3 linked regions of the Homo sapiens genome follow. The protein of the gene in region 1 interacts with the protein of each later gene in a biochemical or structural test. Each region holds a gene or a part of one and is shown in the gene's direction. Other genes may lie near its edges. The genes, in order: PER2, BTRC and CSNK1E.

Region 1 (3,650 bases):
GCGGGTTGGACACATTCCTTTGGTGCCGTCTCCTCGGTGACTGCATGTCTGGGTCGGGGCACCGCGGCTGGAGGCCAGGAGTCTACCTCTGGAGCTGACCCTGGGGTTCAAACCTCAGCTCCCCTGGTCTCTGCCATGTAGCCTTAGGCGGGTCGCCATCCTCTCTGCGAAACAGGGTGTGTTGGCAGGGGGCCACATGCATAGCTCAGCAGCCCTGGCTGTGTCTGTAGCGCTGTCTGCTGTCTCCCCAGCCCGTCCCCCACAGCGGCTCCAGTGGCTACGGGAGTCTGGGCAGCAACGGGTCCCACGAGCACCTTATGAGCCAGACCTCCTCCAGCGACAGCAACGGCCATGAGGACTCACGCCGGAGGAGAGCCGTACGTCTCCTTCCATTCTCCCTGAGAAAATGAGTTTGTGGATGTCCCTCCAGAGTTAAAAAGCACACTCAAGACAACCTTTGGCAGTTAGGAGGGGCTTCCTGATTGCAGCTGTTGCTGCTTCCTTTCTAAACTTTGTCCACTTGGGACTTTTTAATCTCTTAAGAGTTGAAAGAGCTAGAAACCATAGCTAAGTGTTGGTTGAAAATTATTTAAAACAGACAAAACAAGCAAAAGTGAAGATTTAACTAGGATAGAAAGAAGAAAATGTGGGCTGGGTGCGGTGATTCACACCTGTAATCCCAGCACTTTGGAAGGCCGAGGCAGGCGGATCACCTAAGGTCAGGAGTTCAAGAACAGCCTGGGCAAGGTGGTGAAACCCCGTCTCTACTAAAAATACAAAAATTGCCTTGCATGGTGGCGCGCCCCTGTAATCCCAGCTACTCGGGAGGCTGAGGCAGGAGAATGGCTTGAACCCGGGAGGCAGAGGTTGCAGAGAGACAAGATTGCGCCACTGCACTCCAGCCTGGGTGACAGAGCAAGACTCTGTCTTAAAAAAAAAAAAAAATGTAATGTGCCGTTTTGCTTTATTTTTTATTATTCTTTAGGATCATCAAATAGGTTTTATCTAGCTCTACACCTGTCAGATTTCTCATCCACAGTTTCCTTCTGTGTTGCTGAAATTATTTCAGCCATCCTCTGTTCTCACTTTGCCGGACAGACTGAAGGAGGTCTCCTAGAATGAATAATGTGTTCATTTTGTTTTTCTTCAAGGAAATTTGTAAAAATGGTAACAAGACCAAAAATAGAAGTCATTATTCTCATGAATCTGGAGAACAAAAGAAAAAATCCGTTACAGGTAAAAAAAAAAATATTCAACATTTCCTTACTGAAACTAGAGTATGGCCACATGAGAAGAGGGAACCTGGGTTAAATGCTGACTCTGGCTGGCAGGGAGTCTACCTTGTAGCCGTGTCACACCCCCTTCTGCGTTCAGCACAGTCTGCAGCTTCCAAGAGGCGAGAGCAGCCCAGTCCTGCACTCAGCCAGTGCAGGCACTGATGTCCACACTGGGCACCTGATGCCCTGCAGGCCTGGCGGGGTGTGGCTAGGTGTGCAGGCCTGGGGAGCTGTGACCAGTGTGCCTTCCTGCACCCTGGCCTGCCAGCAGGGTGTGCCTGGGAGCCACGGCCTGGGCCGCTTGTTCTTGCTGTACAGAGTAGCTGTATGGCTGTGTGTTTACACTTGCAAACCCTTCACTCACACACACACACAACTGCCGACGGTTTGCCCAGCATCCACATACACTCAAACCAAACCTGTCTGAAGTGGGGAGTACCACCCAGGGGCTGCCGACCCACCCCCACTGCAGCAGCCCTTTCCTACCACAGCGCCACACTTCCCAGGCAGCTTCACAGTGTCATGCGCGGGTTCAGATTCATGCTGCTCCTCTGTCCCGCATGTATTTCTCACACAGCATGCACACAGACACGTGTGCACACATGCATGCATCCCAGTCCCCTCCCCCTGGTGGGCCCTTGCTCATTCTCTGTGCTCAGGCCGAAGCCTCCCGTGGGGAACACTCTGGCCAGACACCGCTAGGACTTTTGGCCTTGGGGATGTGTTGGTGGACATGCTGCCTGCTGGACTCTGTGCTGGGTGTTGGGGACACGCTAATGAGCTGGACACAGCTCTTTGCTTGAGGGTCCCTAGGGGACAGGCATGTGATGAATGTCGTTGGGGCAAGAGTCGAATCTGCAGCACAGTGAGCAGGCAGTTGTCATCATAATTGTTACTAGCAGGGATCACCTTGAAAACACTGGCCTGGCCCAGGAGGAGCATAAAGTACGTGGGCTCTCATTGGCCCTGAAAGTTTAAGAGTTCAAGTGAGAACTGCTGTCTCCCACTGCTGAGTCCCTGACCCCTGGGGACAGCCTAGACCCCAGAGAGAAGCAGACACCAGGCTGGGCAGCAGCTCCCCCCCCAGGTCTCTCTGTGGACGGCACTGTGGTGCTCGTGCCCACAGGGCTGCCAGATGCCAGGCTGTCCCCAGGCTTCCATACTCATGAAGCAGATTCTGAGTCCCCAGCCCTGTCTTCAGGTAGAACGAAAATGCTTTGTAAATACACAGCGTTTTCTGTGGGAGAAAAATGAATGAAAGAACAATTTTGCCATTCCTTCAGAAATGCAAACTAATCCCCCAGCTGAGAAGAAAGCTGTCCCTGCCATGGAAAAGGACAGCCTGGGGGTCAGCTTCCCCGAGGAGTTGGCCTGCAAGAACCAGCCCACCTGCTCCTACCAGCAGATCAGCTGCTTGGACAGCGTCATCAGGTATGCCGGCATTTCCAGCCGAGTCTCCACCATCTCACACACCTTCCCTCCTCTCATGTTGTGTGGCCTCACCAGTGGTTCATGCCTTTCACACAGGTACTTGGAGAGCTGCAATGAGGCTGCCACCCTGAAGAGGAAATGCGAGTTCCCAGCAAACGTCCCAGCGCTAAGGTCCAGTGATAAGCGGAAGGCCACAGTCAGCCCAGGGCCACACGCTGGAGGTATCTAATCTGTGTAGAGCCATGTACATGTGAAATAATGTAAATCCTCTGGAGTAGAGTCAGACGTCCCCATGGCTTCTGTGGACACAGTGTAAGGGTGTAGGCTGTTTTTCAAATGATGAAAGTAGTTCAAAAGTCAGCACCCTTCTTAGGAACTAGAGGCAAAGATGGTTCTGTCAGAGCCTTGGCTTTGAGAACAGGAAGCCAGTGGGGCTACTGGAGGCCTGGGGCCGTCCCCTGACCCCCCTCATGCAGACACACTGCAGGGACATCTCCTGGTCCCCTTCATGCGGCCACACTGAGGGGCCGTCTGCTGACCCCCTCATGCAGCCACACTGGTCTCAAGTTGTCAGTCTAGGGCAGGCCCTCTTTCCAGTGTGTCTCAGAGGGGCCCTTGGCCTGAATGTTAACATGGCCCATAAATCACATTAAATCCCAGGCTGCTTAACACAACGCTGTCAGTGTTGCTGATGTTCACCACCAGGATTAGAAATGGTACCCCGGCTGGGCGCGGTGGCTCACGCCTGTAATCCCAGCACTTTGGGAGGCCGAGGTGGGTGGATCACTTGAGGTCAGGAGTTCAAGACCAGCCTGGCCAACATGGTGAAACCCCATCTCTACTAAAAATACAAAAATTAGCCAGGCATCATGGTGCATGCCTGTAATCCCAGCTACTTGGGAGGCTGAGGCAGGAGAATGGCTTGTACCTGGCAGGCGGAGG
Region 2 (3,650 bases), on another chromosome or scaffold:
TGTAAACAGAAATAACTTTGAATGTTTTTATCTCAGTTGTAAATGTAGAACAGCAGGCAAAAGAAGTTTTTTTAGTGAGATCATCCTATTTTATAGGATCTTTTCTTCTGAGACCTCAGTACAGATTTGGGTGGTGGAGAACTTTAATTGGGAAGCCCTTCTGGTTTACACTCCCCAAGATCTGTTCTCCACTGTTTTCCTCTGCACCTCCTACAAAATATTCTCTGAAATGCTAACCAAGTTATCTTTTGGTCTGGAATTTTTTTTCATTTTTGCCCAACTGTCATTTAGGTTTTATAGCAGCAGCTACTCTCAAATATAGTTTTTTTAAATCTGAAATTAAACCCATTCTTGAACTTAAACATACATCTCTGTCTTTCTCTTGGGATATTTCCATGCCATTCTGTATTTCCTTCTTCTCTCCTTTCTGCATGCCCAAAATTCTATAACCCAGCACATTCTGACTTAGTGCCTCTCCCCTAGTACATTTAAAGGACATTTCTTTTACCGAACAGCTTTGGAACTACAGCAGTAATAGAAACAGAATGAGAAATGGACCTAATATAGAGATTTGGGGGGGTCTGAATCATAGAGTTTGAGATGCCATCCATAGAACATCCCCTAGTGCTGAAATCCATATAGATAGATGTGAATTGTTTTCTGGAATCCTTTTTATTTTTAATGTCTTGGGGGGTTTGCTGGTTGTTAGCTTTAACTTCCTTATCTAAAGGAAGATGGAAAATACTGTTCATTTCTGTAACCTTATGGAAAAATTATTGACACTCATTTTACCCAAGCCTCTGTTTGAAAAAGAAACTGGACCACACTAGGGACAATGATGTGCCTTCATAGCAGAACAAATGCTGTTCTGTTTTAAAGGACCTTTTGTAAAAAATCATTCGCCACCTTCTGTGTTCTTTTTCTTTGCCTCCTCCCCCTACTGAAAGCTCGGGGATTGGATCATATTGCTGAGAACATTCTGTCATACCTGGATGCCAAATCACTATGTGCTGCTGAACTTGTGTGCAAGGAATGGTACCGAGTGACCTCTGATGGCATGCTGTGGAAGAAGCTTATCGAGAGAATGGTCAGGACAGATTCTCTGTGGAGAGGCCTGGCAGAACGAAGAGGATGGTGAGCCTTTAACTTTTCTTACTCTTATACGGCTTCAGGACCTGGCCATTCACAGTCACTGAAAGATTTTTGGGGAGCCAATGAGACCACTTCTCATTTAATATGGTGATTTTGTTGATTTCTAGCTTAAAATGTAACAGAGAACAAATGTTCATATACTCAGCAGTTTTTCTTCTTACCTGTCACTCACAAAATGACATGATATTGTATTAATACTGCTTTGCAAAAAATAATGGAAAGCTGATCAGCCCTCCTGTTTAAAACATTCTGTTATCTGGGCAGAAGTTGGTATCCTGTGGCTGGGCACAGTGCGTTCACGCCTGCAATCCCAGCACTTTCGGAGGCCAAGGTGGGCAGATCACTCGAGGCCAGGAGTTTGAGACCAGCCTGGCCAACGTGGCGAAACCCCAACTCTACTAAAAATACAAAATTTAGCCGAGTATGGTGGCGTGCACCTGTAATCCCAGCTACTGTAGAGGCTGAGGCAGGAGAATCGCATGAACCCTAGGTTTCTTTCAGAAAATTTCTTGCCTTTATCTTATGCCTCTGGTGTTTTGTCACCTTTGTAATCAAAAATTATTTTTAAGCCCAAGTGGAATAAGAACTCTAGCCATCAGAAAAAGTGAAAATGAAATTAAGTATAAATCATTGTTTCTTCTTAAGACTTCTGTTTTTCAAGATTTTCTGACTTAATTCCGAATTCCCCAAAGCATCATATAGTTAGCAGTCTAAGAGACTTCACTAATTTTTTTGTTGTTCTCTTAACAGTACTATTTCATTAGAACTTCTGAAAGATATCTTTCTTTAAATACTTTTCTCTCAGAGTATGTCTCTAGAATGTCACTATAGGAAAGCTACGTAGTAATAGTTCACAAATAAAGGTGACATATTAAATATTCTCATTGACAGAAAAAATTATAATAGGCATGTGTGTGCTTAGTGATGTCCTTCCAAATTAATTTTATCAGTTGTTTATCTTGGATCATAAAGAGGAAAACAGTTAAAAGTAGAGAACACTTTTAAAAGATAAATATTCATGGGCCAGCTTTCCTTTGAATTTTCATGAAAAAGTAGTTGGCTCTCTTTCTTTTTTTCTATCTTTGAAATTTATTAACACATAATAAATACAATGACCTATAAATATTATACCAAATGCCTCAGATTTTTATCATTCTGGCTATTAGGAAGACTGTTTAAATTTTTCTCTCAAATTGAATTAAAGGAACAAAAAAACTAGGCAATTTTTAGGCTGTGTAACAAAGAATATTGTTGGCCGGGTGGGGTGGCTCACGCCTGTAATCCCAACAGTTTTGGAGGCCAAGGCAAGAGGATCGTTTGAGCCCAGGAGTTTGATACCAGGCTGGGCAACATATTGAGACCTCATCTCTACAAAAAAATCAAAAAATTAGCTGGGCCTGGTGGCGCATGCCTGTAATCCCAGCCACTCAGGAGGCTAAGGTGGGAGGATGGCTTGAGTCTGGGAAGTTGAGGCTGCAGTGAGCTGTGGTCATGCCACTGCACTCCAGCCTGGGCAACAGAGCAAGACCCTGTCTCTTTCTCTGTCTCTCTCTCTCTCTCTCTCTCTCTCTCTCACATACACACACACACACACACACACACAAAAGAATATTATTACTACTTCTCAAATATGTTTTTTAATTCTTATTTCGCTACATAGAAAAATAGAAATCTTTCATAACCTACTTCATACTTTGGAAATAAACTCTTTAATAGTACAACAAAGCAAATAAAAATGGAGTTATATGGTATTCGGGGTCCATCATTTTGCTAAGAGTGCTGGGACCAGCCTTGGGGATACAGCAGGCAGTTGCTTACATGAGAAAATTTTAGGGCAGCTGAGAAGATTTCTGTATCCCTCAGAAAAAAAGAATCTCGTCTCCAAATAACTCCTGAAATTTCAGTTAAGGAGATTCATTCCTTTAGCTATAAAGGTTCTGTTACCTGTTAAAATACATTGTGTTCCCATTTGGACTGTAAATGACAGTAAACCTTCATCATAAATTGGGAGTTTACTGAGTCCTTTTTTGAAGGCAGAAAGATCAAGAAGTAAGTGGGCAGTTCTTGGCAGATGGATGTGAAAATGCCAAAGGTAAAAGGCTCCACAGTTTTGCTTGGGATTGGCACTAAATGGCAAGATCTTTTATGTTAGTTACAAAGAAAAAACAATCATTGAGAAGATGGCTTTTGAGCCTTTCTAAAGGGTAGGTGAAGTAATCCAGGATCCAGCACTAATTACCACTTTTTTCCCCTATCTCTTTATCCACAGAAACCCATTCCCGCTCTTTTGAGTATCCTTCAGAGTTCTGACTATATCCCCTTGTCTTTGGGCATGTTTATCCTCTTAATCCCATGATAAACCCATGAAATTCCAAATACTTATACATCCCGTGTCAACTTCCTCCATTATTCCCTCGACTTTCTTGTTGCTGCTTCTGTTTTTACATGTTGACTTTATTCCTGTGTCAGTTTTCTTCCCTTTTTTAAAAAAAAATTTA
Region 3 (3,650 bases), on another chromosome or scaffold:
TCCCTTGAGAAGCTTCTTTTGAGGGGCCCCTGAATGAGCATCCCCCAAAGACATGCTTGCTTGGCTGCTTCCTCTCTGGCCACACTGAAACCTGTCCTCAGCCTGCCTTAGCTGTTCCCCAGGTGTGTGGAGTGCAGGCTGTGGGCCACCTGACACCTGCAGAATGTGGTCTTCGAGAATGCAGGTTTTCGAGTTCCTGGTGGCTCTGCCTGGCCTTGGTGGACTGGACCCCTTTCCCGGCTCCCCACGTCGCTGACCCTCATGTTCCTGCTTCCTCTGCAGCAAGAGTGAGCCATGGAGCTACGTGTGGGGAACAAGTACCGCCTGGGACGGAAGATCGGGAGCGGGTCCTTCGGAGATATCTACCTGGGTAAGTGTTCCTAGCTCCAGCTGGAGCCCCTGGGGCCAGCCCATGGGACCAAGAGGAGGAAAGACCCCAGGATTTGGGGATCTGAAGTCAGAATGTGGCTCCAGGGGCATGATTTGCCCCAGGGCCATCCCAGATGGGGAAGGAAGCAGCAGGTTGCCGGGAGGCAGGCCAGGGGGCTCCTCTCGCAGGCCAGGCTGGGCACTGGAGGGTATTTTTAGCTCCAGTTTCTGCAGGAGTCATGCGGTTCTTTTGTGCCTCAGTGTCCCGGGTCAGCTGGGTCACCAGCTGGGTGTGGGAAAACCCAGGCGGGGTTCACATCCTCTCCCCTGCTTCCTGGGAGAAGGATATTGGTAGATAGAAGGGACTTGGGTTGCTGCTGGACCCCTAGCCAGGCCCCCCTCTCTATGTCCTGGCCTCCTGGAACCCAGCCCAGGCAGGCTTTGGGATGACGCAGGCTCCCCTGTAACCTCGGGGGTGGGGTGGGGGGATGCGGTCTCCTCATTAGGGAGTTCTCTCTCTCTCTTTTTCTCTCCGGATGTGCTTCCTGTTGAAAGTATGAGTATGCTGTGATGTTGCATTTTAAACAAATCACTGACCTCTCAGTCCTCCCCTTGGCCTGGGAGAAATGAGGCTTGCGCCTTTCAGTGCCACTTCTGAGGGGCACGGTCATGAGTCTTGGCCCTTCCTTTGTGCTTATTGGTCCAAAGGGAAGGTATTTAGTGTTGGTGCTTGTGGATTAGCGGGTGGAGGCTTGAAGTTGCTGGAGTGAGGTGGCCAGCCCTTCTACGAGTTATCCTCATTCCTGTCCCTGCACCCTCAGAAGCAGGCTAGACACACCTCTGTGCCTTGGTTACCCTCCTTGGAAAATGAAAATCAGCTCTGTCCAGTGCAGAGAACACCAAGTCTGTGTGTCGTGTCCATCAGCTCAGAACTTCGGGGTTTCTGTTACCCCATGGTTAGGGTTCCTTGGAGTATGAAATGTGCTAAGGAAGCCTCAATGGAGACGGGGACGGAGACTGGGAGTTCCCTGACCACTTCCTTGCAGGGTACTTTCTGCAGCCCCTAGAGATAGTACCAGATTATTTGTTTGGCACATCAGGAAACTGAGGCACAGATGGTCAAGTTGGCCTCCCAAGACCGCTCTAGAAAACTGGCAGAAGCAGCCTGTATGCCCACAGCCCTCCACATGAGTGAGAGCGTGGAAGACAGAACATGCCGAGGGAGACGTTAGACGTCTAGCTCTGCGTTCTAGACGTGGCTTTGTGTGGCTGTGGGAAGGTCATGCAGCTCCTCTGTGCCTCAGTGTCCCCATCTGTAGTTTGTGATAATGCTGCCTGACTGACCAAGAACTGTTCCAAGGCAGAGATGAAATGACAGATGGGAAAGTATTTTGTAAACTCTAAAGTGCCAGCCAGATGTGCAGTTCATTGCTGAGTGCTTAGTAGATGAGCCTCCCCTATGGACACCCTGGAGCTCAGAGGGAGGGAGAGTGTGTGGTGCAGCTGGTTTAAAGGTTTTTCTCTGCGACCCCAAGCTACTCCCGGGGAGGCAGGCATTTGGTAATATCTGCTAGTGCCCAGCGCAGTGGGTGTTCACTGAAGGCTAGTCAAGCAAACCAATGAGAAAATGGGGATTGTGACATGCACAGACATGCACAGTAGCCTCACAGCAGAATAGAAAAATGCCGGGATGGCCAGGTGCGGTGGCTCACACCTGTAACGCCAGCACTTTGGGAAGCCAAGACAGACAGATTGCTGGAGTCCAGGAGTTCGAAACCAACTTGGGCAACATGGTGAGACCCCATCTCTACAAGAAAAATATAAAAAGTAGCTGGGCATGGCGGCACGCGCCTGTAATCTCAGCTACTCAGGAGGCTGAGGTGGGAGAATCACCTGAGCCATGGAGGTTGAGGCTACAGTGAGCTGAGATCACACTCCAGCGTGGGTGTCAGAGTGAGACCATGTCTCAAAAAAAAGGAGGCCAGGAGATATGGCTCACACCTGTAATCCCAGCACTTTGGGAGGCCGAGGCGGGCAGATCACTTGAGGTCAGGAGTTCGAGACCAGCCTGGCCAACATGGTGAAACGCTGTCTCTACTAAAGATACAAAAATTAGCTGGGTGTGGTGGCACATGCCTGTATCCCAGGTACTCTGGAGGCTGAGGCGGAAGAATGGCTTGAATCTGGGAGGTGGAGGTTGCAGTGAGCTGAGATCGTGTCATTGCACTCCAGCCTGGGCGACAAAGCAAGACTCCATCAAAAAAAAAAAAAAAAGAAGGAAAGAAAAGGGCTGAGATGTGGGGGCCAGTCCAGGTTCAGATCCCCAGCGTGTTCCTCATTTGCTGTGTGACCTGGAGTAAGTCACCATATCATTCTGAGCCTCAGTCTTCTCATCTGAAATGAGTGTACCCAGCTCCTTACTGTTTGTGAAATTGGAGTGGGTGTAAAGGACCCTCGTATTATTGAAGCTGTTGGGCTGAGCACTGAAGTCTGGAGCCACTGGCTGGAGGTCAAAGGGCATGGAGACAGCTCTTGGCACAGACTTGTTCCTAGACAGCGCCCATCCCAGGTCCCGTCGCTCTTTTTGCAGACAGGAGACAGGCCCATGGCTGGAGCGGGGACAGCCCAAGATCACTCAGAAAATCCAGAATCTTGTGTGGTGGGACCTCCCTGGGGACAGGACTTCCTGTTTATCTGCATAGTCATCTCATTCATTTTAAAAACTAAGTACAGATTTACTCCTCTTTGTACTGGCTCTAGAGTAAATTCGACCTAGGTTTGGGTGCTGGTTCTTCCTTTTGTGAGCTGTATGCGCTTGAGCAGGTGATGACCTTGTCCATCCTTGGCTTCCCCATCTGCAAAATGGGGTCGTGCAAAGTAATGAGGTCGTGGCGTGTAAAATACCCACGTGTGCTGGGCCCAGCAGTAGTGCTGTGCGCTGCGCCCCCACCATTGGTCTTAGTTTCTAGTTCGGAGTTGATTTCGAAGGGTCTGGGTCCTCTGGGTCTGAGTCTGGGGAGGCGAGTCAGACTCCTGACTCTCCCATCTTCACTGGTGCAAGGGCCTCAGGGGACCCTGCCCTGACTCACCATCCTGCCAGCACCCTCCTGGGCCCCTGTCTTGTTGGTTTGGGGACAGTGGTGATTGTAGGGCGTCCCCGGCCAGCCTTGCTGGCTCCATTTATTCAACACTCTGGCCACATTCTTATCCCCAGTGCTCTGCCAGGGCCTGACTCCAGATGGCCTCTGCCGGTGGGGCTGGATGCGTCCTCCAAGCCCTGC

The links.
Region 2: the proteins of PER2 (region 1) and BTRC form a complex in vitro, tested with the Homo sapiens proteins (one study listed by BioGRID).
Region 3: of the proteins of PER2 (region 1) and CSNK1E, one has a biochemical effect on the other in vitro, tested with the Homo sapiens proteins (one study listed by IntAct).

Annotation. Positions count from the first base shown.
Region 1 is NC_000002.12:238,257,555-238,261,204, reverse strand, and holds part of PER2 (period circadian protein homolog 2), read left to right. Parts: intron 1-251; coding exon 252-377; intron 378-1,151; coding exon 1,152-1,236; intron 1,237-2,560; coding exon 2,561-2,708; intron 2,709-2,804; coding exon 2,805-2,929; intron 2,930-3,650. UniProt on the Homo sapiens protein: Transcriptional repressor which forms a core component of the circadian clock.
Region 2 is NC_000010.11:101,525,066-101,528,715, forward strand, and holds part of BTRC (F-box/WD repeat-containing protein 1A), read left to right. Parts: intron 1-947; coding exon 948-1,134; intron 1,135-3,650. UniProt on the Homo sapiens protein: Substrate recognition component of a SCF (SKP1-CUL1-F-box protein) E3 ubiquitin-protein ligase complex which mediates the ubiquitination and subsequent proteasomal degradation of target proteins. Recognizes and binds to phosphorylated target proteins.
Region 3 is NC_000022.11:38,310,802-38,314,451, reverse strand, and holds part of CSNK1E (casein kinase I), read left to right. Parts: intron 1-282; 5' UTR 283-294; coding exon 295-370; intron 371-3,650. Other genes in the region: TPTEP2-CSNK1E (casein kinase I), read left to right, coding at 295-370.